Regions from separate parts of the Homo sapiens genome. Here regions 1 and 3 are each linked to region 2. The links come from fine-mapping of genetic effects on gene expression. A gene starts in region 2. Each other region holds a variant in brackets. All regions are shown on one strand. Distances are from middle to middle.

Region 1 (6,234 bases), 72 kb before region 2:
CTCACACCTGTAATCTCAGCATTTGGGAGGCTGAGGCGGGTGGATCACCCGAGGTCAGGAGTTCAAGACCAGCCTGGCAAACATGGTGAAACTCCATCTCTATTAAAAATACAAAAATTAGCTGGGCATGGTGGCAGGCACTTGTAATCCCAGCTACTCGGGAGGCTGAGCCAGGAGAATCGCTTGAACCTGGGAGGCGGAGGCTGCAGTGAGCTGAGATCACACCACTGCACTCCAGAGCAAGATTCCATCTCAAAAAAAAAAAAAAAAAAAAAAAAAGTGTTTCAAAGTCATTAATACAAATGATTTACTGAGCTTGCTGGGTGTGAGGATGGAGATGGGGTTAGGAGGACGGGACTGAAACCCCGAAAATGTGTCACTATCTGGAAAACCATTAACTCCACTGATTGTTCCAGCCTTACACGTTGAGATGTCAGAGCCAAATACATTTATTCGCTCCAAGCATCAGTAATGTGACAGACATGTGGATACCCTACCAGGACACAATGCTGATTCCACTTGCAGTGAACACAGACACTGTGCCCAAGAGAAATAAAGCAGAGGGAGGCAAGAGGACCCAAAGCTAGAAGGAGAGGGCAAAGGAGAGAGAAACACTTTGGGTTTGATATTCTCATTCCCCTTTGATGCGATCACAGGGGAAATGCCAGAGGGCTGACTGACTGATATCCTGACTCCCAGAGCTCTTCCATGGGAAACAAGGAAGTGCCTATGGAAGGCTATGCAACTTACAAGAAATCTGGACAGCAAGATTCTCTCCGGAACAAATGCCAAGAGGGAGATGAATTATTCAGTGTGTAGAGATGTGTCATTCAGGATGAAGAGATGTGTTTTTGGCTGCACAAAGATTTAAACAGACACACTCACACATACATACATGCACACACTCACTCTTCCTGGCAGTTAAGGAGAGGAATTGTCCATTTAAACCAGCCACCCCCCGTCCCCCAGGAACTGTGGGTGCTCCACTGGCCTGAAATGTTTCACCTTGGGCAAGTGCTAAGGATGCAACCTGGGAAGAAATGTCCACTTTCAGATGTGGCCAGGACTTGGGGGCCTGCCTGGAACTCCCAGCCCCCACCCTCGGGTGAAGCAATTCACCACCATCCAGCCTGGTTCAGTCGGTCCCTGCTTCCAGCCTCCACAACTCGGGCTGCCGAAAACCCCAATTGTGAAATCAAATGACCCAGATGCTGGAGGGGCAAGAAGGGAGGGTGCCAGACAAGAACGAGTTCTGCCTCTTCTTAATTACAAATCTCTAAAGGAGCACAAACATTCCTGAATGTTTCTCAACAGGCCCTCCTGGAAAAACGGCCAGATGTGTCGCTGTGGAGACAGGTAGGTTCTGCCAGGAGCACCCTACAAACAGCACACAGGCACACCTGTCGGGGAGAGCCACCCCGGGGGCTGGAAGCCTCCCTTACCCTCCTCTCAGGGGCAACCACCAGTGGGTAACTGGTAGTTACTTTCCTACGGGCTGTGAGGACATGAGACCACGGTGGGCATTCGGCATTCTGACAATGTGCCTTTTCTAAGGAGGCAGCTCAGAGGAGGAGAGGAAAGCCTTCTGCCAAGTTTAATACTGGGTGGTGATTCTCTCGGGACTGAAGAATGCATACCCTATCTTTCATGTTCCTAGTGTTTCCCAAGCAAGTCCCAGCTTCCCACAGTAACCTCTTTATTACCGTCCAGCAGGATGCTGGCCTGCTCTCTCTGAGGGCTGGCTGGGCGGGATCACTTTCTAAAGGGCCCTCCAGACTCCAAGCCAAGAACTGTCCAAACTTTCAGCCGAACCTCTCCTCCCCAGCCCAGGCACAATGGCCAGGCTGGTTCTTCCCGCCCTGGGCTGTTTCACACGCATAGTTCCCATAGCTAAGGTTGCACAATTCCTGATAATGCTCCTTCACCTGGGGCTGCTGCAGAACACCATTTCTAAGCAGTCCCTTCACCTTTAGCTCCGGGGAGGCCAGAATGAACAGGAAGAAAGGCAACGTTTGAAGTCCTTCTTCCTTTAATTCAGTTTGGTTCAGACTCTTTTACTCATTGTCTAACAAATCTGGGCATGATAAAAATAACCATCTCTCAAGTTTGTTAGGAGAGCTGAGCACATGACACACAGCAGAGCCTTCGTTAACACCAGCTACAGAGGAAAGAGACAGATAGGGCCCTGCCCTTACAGTCTAGAGGGCGAGATGCACCCCAGCCAGAAGCAAATCAAGAGGGCCATTTCAGAGAGATCCATGCTATTCAGGTGAAGTGGAGGCGGAGGTCAGCTTTGGCGGCTCTGGGGCCTGGGTATGCACTTTGGATTATTCCTCTGACCACTGCCCTTGTGTTGAGCTGGAGGGTGACCCAGAGACACTCTCTGCCTCACCCTCCACTCTCATCCTTCCACCCTCATTTCAATCAATCCACCAAGCAACAAGCATTTATCAAGTGAGTATGGCACTCCAGGCCCATGCTAGGCACTACGAGGGCTCAGACGCTTGAAGAAGCCATGTTTCTGCTTCCAGGGGCAGAGGGTCTGGCCGGGGAACAAGACTCACACTCCAAACAGGCAGGGAGTCATCCCCACAACATTCCATGGGAGTGTATGTGGCTGTAACGCTACCCGCGGCCTGAGCCACAGGTAATTAGAGGATGCAGGGATATTTAATAAGGTGCTACGTCAGCAGTATAGACGCGAAAGGCCAACGGGCCATGGGCAGGGAGAGAATGCAGCAATGGGGTGTAGTCAGGGAGGGCTGGGGAGGGGAGGAGGAAAGAGCTGTGGTCAGCTCCATGGTTAAGGAGGAGGCAGGGTAGATGTTACCCACAAAGGCTCAGGAATGGGATGCGAGGCTGAAACCCAGGCTCCACCTCTTCCAGAACTGTAGGTGGGTTATGTAACCTGCTTGAGAGGAGTTTTCTTCTCTGTGAAACTTACACAGGAAGGCCCACTCTCATAAGGGTGTTGTGGGGATTAAATGAGATAACCTATACAGTATCTAGTGCCGGGACTGGCACAAGACAAGCCCTTGATAAATGTGGGTTGCAAACATAATCAGAGAGTTCTGCGCGTTGTGAAGAATCACATCACCCTTTATCTCAAATCCTTAACACGTGAGCTATCATCACCACCATCACCACACCCACCATTATCAGTCTTCACCCTAAGAGATACACGGTGGTGGTTAAAACTCACAAGTCTGGAGTCAGCCATCTGGGTCCCAATGCAGGCACTGTCACTCATTAGCTCTGTCCCCTTGGGCATGAACTCTAACCTGTGTGGCTTTGTTTCCTCATCCATAAGATGGGGGTGCTCAAAGTCACCGCTGCGTTAAAATGGGCTGTGCTGACCACATGGCATTCAGGGTTCAATCTACATTGGCTGTTAGGATGAGTTAGGTTTTATACCCCGATTTTCATGATGGGGAAACTGAAGCAAAATAATTGTCCTGGCTTGCACAGCTAATAAACCTTGCACTGTATTCTATCACCTCCCTTCCTGGAGGAGCTGGGACTGCTTAAACCATCTTTTTTTTTTTTTTTTTTTTTTTGAGACAGAGTCT[G/C]GCTCTGTCACCCAGGCTGGAGTACAGTGGCGTGATCTAAGCTCACTGCAATCTCTACCTCCCAGGGTTCAAGTGATTTTCCTGCCTCAGCCTCCTGAGTAGCTGGGACTACAGGTGCCCGCCACCATGCCGGGCTAATTTTTGTACTTTTAGTAGAGGCGGGATTTCCCCATGTTTGTCAGTCTGGTCTCAAACTCCTGACCTCAAGTGATCCTCCTGCCTCGGCCTCCCAAAATTCTGGGATTACAGGTGTGAGCCACCACACCTGGCTTCCTCTCTCTTTTTAGAAAGTTAAATGGGAGAAGGTAGGAGACAGTAGCTGAATTGGATTTGGTTCTCAAAATCTGCTCTCTGAAGGAGGAGGCATTTATACCTGGAATTCCCAAGTTCTTCTTCTCGTAAACACTTCCCTTCCTCTTGTTCTCTACCCTCCGAACACCTGTCTCAAAATTCTGGCTTTTCCACCCTTAGATCTCCTTGTTTCCCTACTCTGTTTGGGCTGGCTTACCCAGAAGTTTTCTTGGCCTAGTTATTCCCATCCTAAAATTCTTTTATAGAAAAAAGAAGAGGAGGGAGGGCTGGAGGGGAGATTCCAGACGGTTCCTCCACCCCAAACCCTCCCTACCTTCAGACTAGGCCCCCACAAACCAGTGGCTCACCTCCCCACTGCCAAATCTTGGATTCTGTCTTCCCTCTGCCCTGCTGGGTTGGTGAGATCACACACCTGTGCCCTTTGGGTCCATCCCCTTCCTTCACCTCCATCTTGAGTCTCTATGCTTATCTGTTCCCACTCACTGACATGGGGTGAATCCAGGCTGCTAATCCCCTCTGTGTGCTGCCTGTTGGGTTTAAGATTTCAGTTCTGAGAACCAAATCATGGATTAGAGTAGGTAAAGCCAACGGACAACCTGAGGGCCAAATTCAGCCTGAAGATATGTTTGTTGATCTACTACAGTGCTATATTTTAAAAACGGACTTAGCACACCTTTGGGGACAGGCACTGTCTGGATGCACTTTGTCCCCATTGCTTTCTAATGTGTCACTCCTGCCTCTTGGTTAAGAGCAGAGGGCTCTGGAGCCAGACTCACTGGCTTTGAATCCAGGCTCTGTCATTTTCTAGCTGTGTGACCTTGGACAAGATATGTAAACTCTATGTGGCTCAGTTGTCACATTTGCAAAACAGGAAAAATAAGAACACATATACTGAGCACTCACTATGCACCAGCAACTGTTCCAAGCAGTTAATGTATTTATATATTTACTCAGCTGGCCTTCACAACAGCCCTTTCAGGCAGGTACCATTCAGACCTGCCCCACAGTGCTCCTTGAAGCTTACATGAGATAATGCATGAAACAGCACATGAGTACACAGTGAGTGCTTGATAAATGTGAGTGATTCGTTTTTCATTTATTTATTTATTTATCTTTTGAGATGGAGTTTCACTCTTGTTGCCCAGGCTGGAGAGCATTGGCACGGTCTAGGCTCACTGCAACCTCTGCCTCCCGGGTTCAAGCGATTCTCCTGCCTCAGCCTCCCAAGTAGCTGGGACCACAGGCGCCTGCCACCATGCCCGGCTAATTTTTTCTATTTTTAGTAGAGATGGGGTTTCACCATGTTGGCCAGGCTGGTCTCAAACTCCTGACCTCATGTGATCCACCTACTTCAGCCTCCCAAAGTGCTGGGATTACAGGCGTGAGCCACCGCACCCAGTGATTTATTTTTCACACTGCTGCCCAAATGAGGCCCCCAACGTAGAGAATGTTAAAATTAAAAGAAACCCAACAAAACAACTCCCTTTCTTTACCAATGAGGAAACTGAGGGACAGAGATAAAAGACTTGCCTGGAGCCACCCAAGGACCCAGGGGACCTGGGGACCAACTCCAGCCCTGCATCACATAATGCCAGGAGATCAAATCAGCTTGGTGCTGGGCTTGGCTCCATTTGAAATTCAATAAGCATCTGAACAGCCTCCAAGAAATAGGTATTGATAGCATTTTCCCAGGCTAACTAACCCTATTATACCGAATGAGACTGATCATTGGGTAGGAACCAAGATGGAGAACTATGAAGCTCCCATTCATGGAGAGACGAGGTTGGGAGGTGGGCTCTTCATTTTTCTCATTACCTACTTGGAAGGTAATTTCCTAAAAGCCCCACACCACAGTAGAATGAAGACCCTGGAATATCTTTTTGCTCCTCACCCTGCTCAACCCCAGCTTCATCCTCATTCCTGAATTATGAGTTAGGCTATGGAAGCTCTGTGCCCTAAAGAAAAAGCCAACAGAACCAGAGAGGACTCCCAGTTCCATCCTTCCTAGCTGTGTAATCTCAGTCCATTCCTTCCCCCAGGTCTGAGCCTCAGTTTTCCTGCAGGTATAGAGCAGACAAGAAAACCTGCTTCCCAGGTTCTTGCATTCATTCATGCACGGACAAGACTCAACACAGCACCTGGCACACAACCCCAGGCAGGCCTGCAGCCCTACTCCTTTCTGTATTTAGGACTCTGGGGACACTCAACTCCCAGCCTTATTCCTTCCAGCCTCATGAGCTGGGTTCCCAAGGGCTCTTCCCAGGTGCTGGGCTGTCTAGAAGCCTCATCAGCAGTAACTGCAGAGGCAGCAGCTCACCCTGTCCTGGAATTTGGCCATTCCAGAATCTTCTGC
Region 2 (6,234 bases):
TCAAGCACTCAAACCTCAGAGAGGTCAAGTGATTTGCCCAAGGCCACACAGACAGAACTAAAAGGCAAAAATGGGGTATGCCGGAGGGAAATTCCAGAAAACCACAAGTGGCTATCCTCCAATTAGCACTTTTCCAAAACATACAAAGCTGGACCACAATAGTGACCCCCAGAGTTGACATGAGACCCCCTCAGGACCCCAAGTTCAGGGGCCCAATACCACCCCAGTCCAGGTGGGATGACAAGGAGGTACAGAGATGAAGTTTATAAACCAGTGACCCAAGGCCAAGCGTGGTGGCTCACGCCTGTAATCCTAGCACTTTGGGAGGCTGAGGTGGGCGGATTGCCTGAGCTCAGGAGTTCAAGACTAGCCTGGGCAACACAGTGAAACCCCATCTCTACTAAAATACAAAAAATTGGCTGGATGTGGTGGCGTGCACCTGTAGTCCCAGCTACTCGGGAGGTTGAGGCAGGAGAATCGCTTGAACCCAGGAGGCAGACTTGCAGTGAGCCAAGATCGCACCACTGGACTCCAGCCTGGGCGACAGAGCGAGACTCTGTCTCCAAAAAACAAAAACAAATAAACAAAAAAACCAAAAGCAAACAAAAAAACCAATGACACAAGATGAAGAAGGTGAGCTGCTCACCTAAGTGCCACTATGTTTCTGCCGCCTCTCCATGGCTTGCCAATCTGCTTAAAAACAAAGGCTGGGCAGGTGAGGTGCTGTGGCCTTAGGCTGGCCACAGTACCTAGCTAAAATATACTAACCCTGGTTTTTTGTTTTTTTTGTTTGCCTATCTTTTTTGTTTCCCCTGTATGACAATAGATATAACTAGTTTCCCATTTGTGAAAATGGTACACATATTTTTAAAGTGAGTTGATCTAAAGTCAAGGAGTAAGTAAGCAATAGCACAGGTGGATATAGCAAAAAAAAATCATGGAGGTGGTCCATGTAACACTAAAATTTGGGAGATTGTGCTCCAGCCAATCAGTTCTTCATAGAAGCTACTTACTTACCCTTTTCCAAGGGTAAAGAATTACTGTTGAGAGGGGCCTCCTATTGCTGTATTAGAAGTCCCCAGATGCATGATTATCAGTGTTGGCAGGGGCGGTCCTTTCCCTCCAACAGGACGTCCACCTGCTAACAGCACACAGGCCTCCGTAAACTACAGGGACCTAAATTGGGGCAGGTCACATATGTTTGAACTTGTGTCTGTTCTGAGAAAAGGACAAGAGAAAAGGTGCTGCCAAGTTCACCAACACAGTAGCAGAGCTGGCAACTGACCCGAGTAAGGGTGGGGAAGCAGTGTGTCAGGGTGACAAGTTTGCAGGTTAGAACTTCAGAGCTGGTGAAGAACTGGTACGCAGAATGGCAGAAAAATCAAAATACTTGAGCAAATCACACCTCTGGGCTTCAAATTTTCTCTTATGTTTCAAATGGGAGTTGGGCGCTGATGTACGTCCCTTCCAAGTTTTAAGCATCCCAATATTCCCTTCCAAGCAAACTTTTTAAATTCAGGGAAATGGTGGGCTCCCCCATCTGACAAACAGGGAAACTGAGGCTCAGAGGTTGAAGCAGCTTGCCTAAGAGATGCTCTCTAGCACTAAATATTTACCTTCCAGATTACATTCATGAGACATTCAGCATGGTGCTGAGTGTAGAGGAGGCATCCAGGAAGCGCTGAATGAACGAATGAATGAATGAATGAAAGTAAGTGCTCCCAGAAACTACCGAGAATCTCAACTCTCATTTTCTTTCCGCTTATATTCTTTTTTTGACCCACATCTTGCTACATACACTTCTGGGACACCTCCACCCCCACCACACAAGATGAAGAGTCCAAGAAATTCACCTTGGTTGCTTTACAGGGACCTGACCCCCAAGGTCACAGACAAGGTTTAAAGTCCGCATTCCCCAAGACACTCTGCCCACAGACCGTGTCAACAACATCGTGGTCCGGGGACTCTAGGACATACATGGAGAGGGTGAATGTATGTGTGTGTGTGCAGCATGTGAGCAAAGAAATGCCAAACAACCAGGAGAAAGTCTGGAGAGGTAAGAGCCACACCGAGCTATCTCAGGCTCCATCTGCCTCTGCACATTATCTCAACCTACAGCGGCCTGGTACCCACCAAGGTCAGGTCCCGCTGGTGCAGGGCTGAGGAGCCTCGCCGCCCCCTTCCCCGATCAGGGAAGAAAGAGAGGAGAAAGAGGCGAGGGGCAAGGCTTTCCGGGAGGCCTCTCACCTCCATCTCCATCCTAACAGCTTCCAAGTTGCTGCCAGATTCCTGGATAACCAGTCTCCCTCATCTGCCCTCCCCCGCTTCTTCACTTCCTCCCCACCCTCGGGTTCCAGGGCCCCCTGGCTGCCCCTGTGCTGTTCTCAGCAGCTTCCAAGGCACCTGTCAAAAAGCACACCTCAGGTTGCCTTCCTCTGCGCCGAGTGCCCTCTCTCCAGTGGTCTCCCACGGAATCCTGGGGTCTTGACCACCCCCTCTAACCGGACACTTCCCCATCCCCATCCGCCCACCCCCCACGCTGGGTGGAAGCCTCCCCGGGAAGACCCGGCTTCACCCGGCTAGGTCGCTCCCCCAACCCCCGCCCCCGCCCGACCTCTCTTCCTAAAGGGGGCGGGCGGGGCTAGAGCTTAAGGTCAAAACTCCGGGCAGGTGCCGGCTGGGGCCTAAGTCCTCCAACTGGGGATGGCGGTGGGGCAGCCTGGGCCAGCTCCCCGGCAGGCGCCTCCTCTCGGTGGCCCACTGAGGCGGGAGCAGCGCTCCAGAAGGTTGGGGGGAGCAGGGGGTGGCGAACTGAAGAGAGCTCAAGAGGCACGCAGAGCTCCCCTGCCCCCTCCCAGTCCCGGCCGGCGGCTCCAGGGGCAGGTGGGGGCCCAGGCGGGGGTGTGGGGGCACGGAGGAGGGTTCCAGGGTCCTACCTGTCCCGCGGGTCGATCCAGCTGGTGGTGCGGTTCGTGTGGTCTATGTAGTAGACCTTGCCGTCGAAGTCGCGCGCCTCCTCCCAGCCCTCCGGCAGGGGCAGCTCCGGCCGGGGCATCTTCCCAAGCGCTGCCGGCGCTCCCCCATGCAGCTCCCGGCCGCAGCGGGGGCTCAGCGGCTCCAGCCGGCCGCTCTTAGCCCGGGCGGCCGCCGAGGCACCATGATCCGGGGGGTGGCGCCCGCAGATGGGGGGCCCTAGTAGGGGCCGGCCGGGGTGGCGCCGCTGTCCATGCGGCCCTGCAGCCCCGACCCGGCGCCGCCCGCTCCTCCCGCCGCCGGCCTCTCACGCTGCCATGTGCGTCCGCAGCGGCGCGGTGCGAGCCCGGGTGCGCGCCCAGCCGGCCGGGCAGAGCGAGCCGAGCGCCGCCGCCGCCGCCGTCTGCCCTCCTCCGCCGCGCGGCGCGCTGCGCCCTCCACGCCGCCGCTGCCGCTGCCGCCTCCCTCCTCCCTGCAGCCGGGTGCCGTCCCTCCTCTCCGCTCCACCGCTCTGAGCTCGCCGGGTTTGTGACTTCTGCCTCCGCCAGGTGCGGCTCGGGCGGTGCAGGTAACCGCGCTGCCCCGGAAACGGGAGGCGGAGCGCCGGGCGCCTGGGTTCCCGGGTCCCCTCCCCGCGCGCAGCGCCTCGAGGGCGGGTCCTAGGGCCCGAGACGCGCCCCCTCGTGGGACAGTCCCAGCCGCCGGCCACCCTTACGCTGCCCCTGCCAGGGGAAGGAGAGACCGCCCCTCACCTGCGTCCCAGACCTAGGGGGCTGGGCCAAAAACCGCTCTGCCTGTACTTAAAACGCTCCTGTCTCTCTCCACCCGGAGTAGCCAGGCTCTCGGCACAGGTGGCCCCAAATCTTAAAAACTCCCTGCTTTTCTGTGGTGTAGAATCAGGAGTCAGGCAAGAAGTGGTTAAATGGAAACATTCTTGCGAATTGGGAAACATAAGTTTTCCAGGATCTCTGGTCCCTTCCCCCAACACAGGCACCATCTGTCTCCTTCTATTCAACTCTCCCTACGACGTTTCGCCCACCCTCCACCCTTCCCCACCATTTGGAAATGTAGCTGGCTCCCCTCAGGGTCCCTAAAATTAGGAGCGCTGTGGATCCGCTTTCCTGGGAGGACTTCCAGAGGGTGTCAGGGAAAACACTTTGTAAAAGTAATAGTAATGCCATTGTTATTGTTAGCTAAATTGAGGACTTACTTGTGACAGGCTGTGGCTAGCAGCTTCACAGGCTTTCTTTCCTGTGATACTTTGAGGTAGGTGTGTTATGGATTTGGGAGAAGTGGGGCTATGAAAAAGAAGAAAGTAAGCAAAGCAAAATTCCATCTTGAAAAATGTTCAAGAGAATAAAACAATCAGAGACACAATGTTTCTTGAGAAATTAAAAATGTAGAATTAGTGGGTGCGGTGGCTCACGCCTGTAATCCCAGCACTTTGGGAGGGTGAGGCAGACAGATTACCTGAGGTCAGGATTTCAGACCAGCCTGGCCAACATAGTGAACCCCATCTCTACTAAAAAATAATAATAATAAATTAGCTGGGCGTGGTGGTGCACGCCCGTAGTCCCAGCTACTCGGGAGGCTGAGGCATGAGAATCACTTCAACCTGGGAGGTGGAGGTTGCAGTGAGCCAAGATCGCACCACTGCACTCCAGCCTGGGCAACAAAGCGAGACTCTGTCTCAAATAAATAAATAAATAAATTTAAAATGTAGCATTAAATACAAAAAGCAAGCTAGCATGATTGAGTGAATGATCAACTGGCTGTTCACTTCCCCATCTCCTCTTACATCTGTGTACTGAGTGGGAATTTAACCCTTTTTTGCCCTCGGCATATGGCAGGAAGCTGGACTGGTCGAATGAAGCCCAGTTGGGTGTCTTCTCTTGCCTGAGCCCCACGGTCTTCCAGAAGAACCAGCACCCTGTGCTGTATGGACCAGGGTGTTGCTGAGCCAGAGAGGGAATCATGTTTGTGGTCTCATCTCCTCTTGACAGAAAAGACCCACCAGAGTGAGCCTCGCCTCCAAATGCCTTCTTCATAGTTAATTCCTTCCCTGAGGCCAGGCCTCGGGGCTCAGTGCTTGGCCCTCCTTCATTCCATAAATACCAGGCACCAGAGTCCAGGGACACCAGCCTCAGACTGGCCCTCAACACCCAAAAGTTGGAATTCCCCATTCCTTTATGGGGGAATTCCCACAGCCCTCTACACTTCCTCTGTTTGGGTCAAGCCTTTACTACATAAAAACCCACTATTGATTAGAGCAGTAGCCCCAAAGCAAAGCCAACCTGGTGCTAGGTTCTTTGAATACATGATCTCAATCTTCATAACAACCCTCTGGCATAGGAAAGTCTATTTATTATACCCATTTTACAGATGAGGCTCCAAGATGCTTTGTTGTTGGCCTGGGATACAGAGCTCATAAGACAGACTAGGTCTGACTCTAGTGCAGTGTTCTCAGTTATTAACCTATACTTTCTTTTTTTCTTTTTTTGAGATGGAGTCTCCCCCCATCCCCCAGGCTGGAGTGCAGTGGCATGATCTCGGCTCACTACAACCTCTGCCTCCCAGATTCAAGCAATTCTCCTGCCTCAGCTTCCAGAGTAGCTGGGATTACAGGCCTGCGCCACCACGCCCAGCTAATTTTTGTATTTTTCAGTAGAGCTGGAGTTTCACCATATTGGCCAGGCTGGTCTCGAACTCCTGACCTCAGGTGATCCGCCCACCTCAGCCTCCCAAAGTGCTGGGCTTACAGACATGAGCCACCTTGCCTGGCTGACTTTCTTTCTTTCTTTCTTTTTATTTTTGAGACGGAGTCTCGCTCTGTCACCCAGATTGGAGACTTTCTTTCTTTTTTAAATCACTCTGCAGCCTCAGAACTTCCCCATGGTTGGGATGTGGAACATGACTGATACTGACAAATGTTCATCTCTGTTGATGTTTGCTTCATAGTTTTTTGGTTGAGAAGCAAGAGCTCTAGAATCAGGCTGTTTGGGTCCCAAGCCCACCCGGTTTTCTAGCTGTGTGACCTTGGGCAGCTTGCTTCACTGAAGTCTCAGTCTTTGATTTGAAAAAAAATCACATAACAATATGGACTCCTTTGGGCTTGTGGTTAGGGCAAAGCAGGAGGAGAAATGTGAGGGCTTGGCACTCAGCAGCACGCCTTCATCTCAGGGGCTGTGGTGCGGTGCATTCGGAGCACCGTGCCTGGCAGCAGACACACCTCTATGAAATGTGGACCATTTGAAGTATTTT
Region 3 (6,234 bases), 91 kb before region 2:
GGAGGCGGAGCTTGCAGCGAGCAGAGATCGCGCCACTGCACTCCAGCCTGGGCAACAGAGCGAGACTCCGTCTCAAAAGAAAAAAAAGAAAAAGAAAAAAAAAAAAAGAACAAGGGGATTTTGGCATGCTTGCTCTCCTCCTTTGGGTACCAGGGATAGGATAGGAGCCCCACTCTGACCAACTTTATGGTCTGGTGGAGGAAATACTGATAACATACAAGCAGATGTATTGTGATACGTGATATGAAGGAAATAAACAGACAGCCATGGCCAAGACTAGAGTTGAGGAAGAGAGGCTTCTGATAGAGTTGTCCGAGCAGGCCTCTCAGAGGTGATGACCTGAAGGATGAGACTGGAAGACTGAGAAGGACTTAGCCTTGCAAATGGATGCGTGACAAAGCATTCTAGGAAGGGGACCGGCACATACTAAGGCACTGAGGTGGAAAATTACAGGGTGGGGTAGGGAAACAGAAAGGGGGGCTGGGGGCTCAGTGCATCTGGAGCCTAGTGAGGAGGGCATGAGATGAGGCAAGAGTGGCTGGCAGGGGCCTGACCACGGAGGGCTGTATAGGCCATGGAAAGAGTGAGGGGAAGCCACTGAAGGGCATTTGATTGTTTTGAAATTGCGGTAAATATATTCAACATAAAATTTACCATTTTAACTATTTATTAAGTGAATTGTTCAGTAGCATTAAGTACATTTACACTGTTGTGAACATACTACCATCCACCTCTAGAAATTTTCTTCTTCCCAAACTGAAACTCTGTACTCGTTAACTAAGAATTCCCCATTCCCAATTCCCCTAGTCCCTGAAAGCTTTTAAATGAGGAGATATGTAATCCGACTGGCATTCTGAGATGATTACAAATGAAATAAAATGAAACGCAAATGGCAAATGAATCACTGCAAGGCACAGGTAGGAGCAGGAAGAGCAGTAAACAAGATGGTGGTTTGGACAAAGAGTAGAGGTGAAGAGAAATGGGCAGACTTGAGAAGCAATATTGGCAGAACTCAGTGTGGCCATTCTCTGTTGGTGTCGGTGGGGGTGGTGGTAGTGGGAGGTACTCACAGCTGACCTGGGAGCCCAGCTTATGCTCCCAGACGGCATGCAGTTGCTGGTACTCCTGCTGTGCAAGCTCCAGGCGCTGCTGCTTCACCTGGTAGATCTCCTTTTGTGCACTCAGAGCCTCCTGGGCCACCACCAGGTAATCCTTCAGCATATGTTCCTGCTCCCGCCGCCATTGTACTCGAGGATCCTCAATCTGAGTGGTTTCTGGAACAGACCCCAGAGATTCTAGGTCAGCATCTCACAAATATCTGTTGGGCTGGTGGCCTGTGGTATCCACTAGCAGAAAACAAAAAGCAAAATGCATAGACAAATCACAATAAATGTAAGTGGGGCAAACTCATTTACTAAATGACAGTGATTCTCCATTTGGAGTAGTCAAACAAATAATAAGCCAGGGGGTTGGGTGTGGTGGCTCACGCCTGTAATCCCAGCACATTGGGAGGCTGAGGCAGGTGGATCACTTGAGGTCAAGGAGCTTGAGACCAGCCTGGCCAACATGGTAAAACTCCGTCTCTACTAAAAATACAAAAATTAGCCAGTATGGTGGCAGGCACCTGTAATCCCAGCTACTTGGGAGGCTAAGGCAGGGGAATTGCTTGAACCCAGGAGGGGGAGGTTGCAGCAAGCTGAGATCGTGCCACTGCACTCCAGCCTGGATGACATAATGAGACTCTGTCTGAAAAAAAAAAAAAAAAAAAAAAGAATAAACCAGGATCAATTTCCAAACCCAATGTCAATCTCTGAGAACGGCCTGAATAAGGATCAGGTTTGAGTACTAATCTAGACAGAGAGGCTCAAGGACATTAGAGATGCTCAAGGTAATCTCCTTTGGTGAAGACTAAAGGAAAGAAAAATAACTAATGTCTCAGAGGATGTGGAGAAATAGGTACCCTATAGCCAGCTGGAAATGTGAATTAGAACAGCCTTACTAGAAGACTATCTGACAATGCAAATTAAGAGCCTTAAAATGTTAATACCCTTTGACCAATAATTCTCCCTATAGTAATTCATTATAAAAAGTAATTTAAATTCAGTCATATATTTGTACAAAACCATAATAATAATATATTATGAAGTAGCAAGCACATGTCATTGATTCTATGATAAGTGCTGTTCTAAGAACTTTACATATGTTCACTTCTTAAATCCTTACACGAACCTTATAGATTCTATTACTATCCCCATTATACCAATGAGAAAACTGAGACGTAGAGAGGTTAAGTAACTTGCTCAAAGTCACACAGAAATAAGTGTTCAAATATGTATGCTATATTCACAGAATGCACTATTATAAAGATAACACCTTTGAAGAAAAATTAATAACATGGAAAGGTACTTATAATATGCAGGTCATAAAACCGAATAAATAACTATCTATCAAAATCAATATGTACATTCTCAAAAAGATGAGAAAATAGGAAAATATCAACAACCAACTAGGTGGCAGGATATTTTAGGATATTTTATTTTTTACAAAATTATGTGTACAAAAAACATATACACTAATGATCTGAAAAAAAAGCAGCTGACGAGATATGGAAGAGGTTAAAATAATGTCAAAGAATCAATGCCCATGGACTATTAACTCCTCAGTCACCCCCAGTTGTTGGGTGGTGTTAGGGGTGATCAACAAGCCAGAAATTGTAAAATCAGGGCAATGTGGTGAATCCAGCCTCCAGATAGGTATTGCTTCTGAATTGATTACTGGTATGTAAAAAATGGAGAGATATCTTCATTAAAATCCTGTTTTATGGCTTTTCTTGATCATTCAGAAGTTCTGGCCACCTTGGGTTCACAACTGGTCAGAAATCCCAGCACCCCATCTGTCAAAACCTGGTCTGCTTCATTCATTTATGTCATATGCCTAGCCCGGGGAACACTGGAGTTTATGCCTCCCAATCTAGGCCCTTTAGCTCTCATTCCTCCTAAACAGGTCCAATGAGCATCTCCAGTGAAATAAAGATCAAAGAAGCAGCAGGGCCAAGTTCTCATTCCTGCCAATAATCGCTGTGTTACAACAGAAAGGCTGTTTAACGTCTCTGAATCTACTTTTGTATCTCTTAAAGGGGGTAATGAACCCTGCATCACTACT[G/T]CCCAGGAAACAGGAAACTAAAGCACTTGTGCCAGGTAAAGGAAACAAATGATAGTGAAAGTAAAACCCAAACTATTGCCTAGGATCAGTTTTCATTGTTGTTGTTTTCTTTTTCTTTTTTCTTTTCTTTTTTTTTTTTTGTTTTTGAGATGGAGTCTTGCTCTGTCTCCCAGGCTGGAGTGCAGTGGCGTGATCTTGGCTCACTGCAACCTCTGCCTCCTGGGTTCCAGTAATTATCCCTGCCTCAGCCTCCCAAGTAGCTGGGATTACAGGCGCCTGCCACTACGCCCAGCTAATTTTTGTATTTTTAGTAGAGACAGGGTTTTACCATGTTAACCAGGCTAGTCTTGAACTCCTGACCTCAGGTGACCTACCTGCCTCGGCCTCCCAAAGTGGTGGGATTACAGGCGTGAGGCACTGTGCCCAGCCTAGGACCAATTTTTGAATCGTCTGTGAATAGCAATTCTTCAAGCTTTTCCTCCTCCTTTTTCTGAGAAAAAAAGTAAGGTCTGAAGACTGCTTACAGTGGCTACAAAAAACTGCCCCTCATGAGGAAAGCTTTCCATCCCTTCAAACCAAACAAGAGGCAGGAACAAATGCAAAAATAATACAAAGACAAAACAAAAAAACAAGGCGGAGATGGAATTTGTAAAACTGGGCTACAGAACAGCTGCTGTGGGTTCCCATCTCCCATCAGCAGCTGTGGATTCCCTTGGCGTTCAGGAATCGTGGGTCCCCCTGAGGGATCTGCCCTACACCTCCAGCTGGCACAGCCCACAGAAAAAAGCAGCTCAGCCTATCTTGAGCAGGCTGGCAATGTTTCTTAAAGTTTGCAACTTTTAGAAGATCTGATTTTTCACCACAAAATAATGAAAAGTACAAAAAAGAAAAATCCCACAATTCCACCATGACAAGTTTGTGAAATAAGAGAGTTTCCATCTCTCCAATCCCATTGCCCAGAGGTAACTGTTGTTGAGTCTCACACAGATACTGCCTTCTGATTATACATGAATTTTTGTTTACACATACACGCCTATATATACAAGGTTACTTTAATGCAACATGGACCATGCCATTTATATTGGTCTGTGACTTGTTTTCATCTCCAAATGATATAGCATGCTCATTTTTGCCTGTAGGTGCACCATCTTTTAAACACCTGTACAGTGTTCCACGCTATGGTATTTGGGTTTATTTAACCAGACCTCGATGGGAAATATTTGAATTGTTTTCAGTTCTTTTGCTACTACATTCAATGCTGCAGTAAGGGTTCTTAAAAACATATGTCTATGAATTTGTGCTATTAATTCTGTGGGATAGGTTTCTTAAAGAGAAACTACTAGATCAGAGGGTACACACACTTACAATTTTAATAGATATTACCAAATTACCTTCCAAAGGCAGGTAATTTCTGTTCTCAAAAACAGCATACATGAGTGCCTCCCCCCACATTCTCAGTGAAATTGCTTTTTTTTTTTTCTTTTTAAAAGTCAGTGCCTCATCCAGTGATTCTGGGTCTTTGCTGCATATTAGAATTAGCAGAGAAGCTTCAAAAAAAAAAAAAAAGCCTGAACCCCACCCCACCCCCCGAAGAACACTTAAATTAGAATTTCCAGGAGTGGGGCTCAGGTATTGACAGTTTTTAAAGCTTCTCTGGGTGACTCTGGTGCAGATATAGCTGAGAGCCCCTGGTTGAACATTAGAATCACCCGGGAGAATTTTTTAAAAATTTCAATCCTACTCCAGATCAATCAAATCCCAATCTCTGGGAGTGAGAATAAAGCAATGATGATTTACAAAGCTCCCCAAATAATTCCAGTGTGCCACCCAAGGTGAGAACCGGTGTTTAAGAGATGACAAACACATGGGCCGATTGGTCACTGAGGCTGGCAGGTGCGATGCGGGCTCCAGGTGGAATCGCCTGCCCAGGTGCTGGTTGAAATGCTGGGCCCGTGTCCAGTTCCCTAAGCGACACCTAGGTGGACCCTCCCACAGTGTTCTGGATTTCATCTGGAACGGGCACCTTCCCTTTGGCCTTAGACCTCAGCACTGCTCTGTAAAACTATAAAGGTATATGAGACCCTTACCTGAAGGTCTGGCCAAGCCAGGTGGCTTGGCGACCATTTTTTGTGGCTCATGGTCTCTTTTGTAAACCAATAAGAATAGATGGGTGCACGAACAGACAAAAACAACACACAAACTCACACCAGAACTGGTTCTCAAACTGGTTGCACACTGGAATCACCCGAGAGATTTCCACTGAATTGATCTACAGTGTGAAGTGGGCATCAATTTGTTACATTTCTGAGAGTATTTCCTTTACCCCAATGATCCCCTGGACGCTCCCAGGCAATTTCCTCTACTCACCCCCTCTCCCAGTTTGCCTGTTTTAGAACTTCACATGCATGGACTCACACAGTTATTTGCTCTTAGGGCCTTGGTTCTTTCACTAAGCAGAAGGTTTTTGAGACTCATTCCTATTGCTGTATCTGTTGTACATTTCTTATTATTGCTGAATAATATTCTATTGTATGAATACATCACATTGTCTTTGTGATAAATTGTTAGTTTGCTTCCAGTTAGGGATTATTATGATGAATACTCTAAGTCTTCGTGTGGGCATGTTTTCACTTCTCTTGGACAAAAATACCAGGGGTAGAATTGCTGGATTATACTTCGCAAGTATATGTCGAATTTCATAAGAAACTGGCAAACTTTTCCAAACTGGTTGTACCATTTTACATTCTCACCAGCAGTGTATCAGAATTCTAGTTCTTCCACATCCTTGCTAGCAGTTGGTATTGTTATTTTTTTCCTCATTTTAGTCATTATAGTGGGTATGTAATGATACCTCGTTGGAATTTTATTTTTTTATTTTTTTGAGATGGGGGTCTCACTATGCTGTCCAGGCTGGTCTTCAACTCCTGGGCTAAAGTGATCCTCCAGCCTCAGGCTCCCAAGTAGCTGGGACTACTTGGCATGTACCACCATGCCCCAGCTGATTCTGTATTTTTATTTTTGTAGAGATGAGGTCTCACTGTGTTGCCCTGTGCTGCCTTATGTTTTGCTATG

Direction of the effects. Alleles are on the strand shown, and positions count from the first base shown. SD is a standard deviation of normalised expression in the study named. Not every link is listed here.
In carriers of allele C in region 1, the expression in skin of the gene that starts at base 3,563 in region 2 tends to be lower than with G alone (small effect, 0.27 SD a copy in TwinsUK).

Evidence for each region. PIP is the estimated chance that this variant, and not a neighbour inherited with it, causes the effect. A credible set is the group of variants that fine-mapping cannot tell apart.
Region 1: its variant is the best candidate, but not a certain one, in a credible set for the expression of WWC1 in skin (TwinsUK, PIP 0.82).
Region 3: its variant is the best candidate, but not a certain one, in a credible set for the expression of WWC1 in T cells (TOPMed, PIP 0.53).

Annotation. Positions count from the first base shown.
Region 1 is chr5:168,360,848-168,367,081 of GRCh38, reverse strand. The region is part of intron 1 of WWC1 (WW and C2 domain containing 1); the gene reads right to left. Among named protein-coding and RNA genes, the nearest start is that of WWC1, 72 kb to the right of the region's middle. RefSeq lists an enhancer at 1,430-1,963. The variant G/C (reference allele first, on the strand shown) is at 3,570.
Region 2 is chr5:168,288,974-168,295,207 of GRCh38, reverse strand. It overlaps WWC1 (WW and C2 domain containing 1), which reads right to left and starts at 3,563. Exons shown (of 23, transcript NM_015238.3): 1 at 2,937-3,563. The coding sequence starts at 3,055. RefSeq lists silencers at 2,751-3,170, 3,271-3,790 and an enhancer at 4,935-5,014.
Region 3 is chr5:168,380,251-168,386,484 of GRCh38, reverse strand. It overlaps WWC1 (WW and C2 domain containing 1), which reads right to left. Exons shown (of 23, transcript NM_015238.3): 3 at 1,071-1,274. Among named protein-coding and RNA genes, the nearest start is that of WWC1, 92 kb to the right of the region's middle. The variant G/T (reference allele first, on the strand shown) is at 3,163.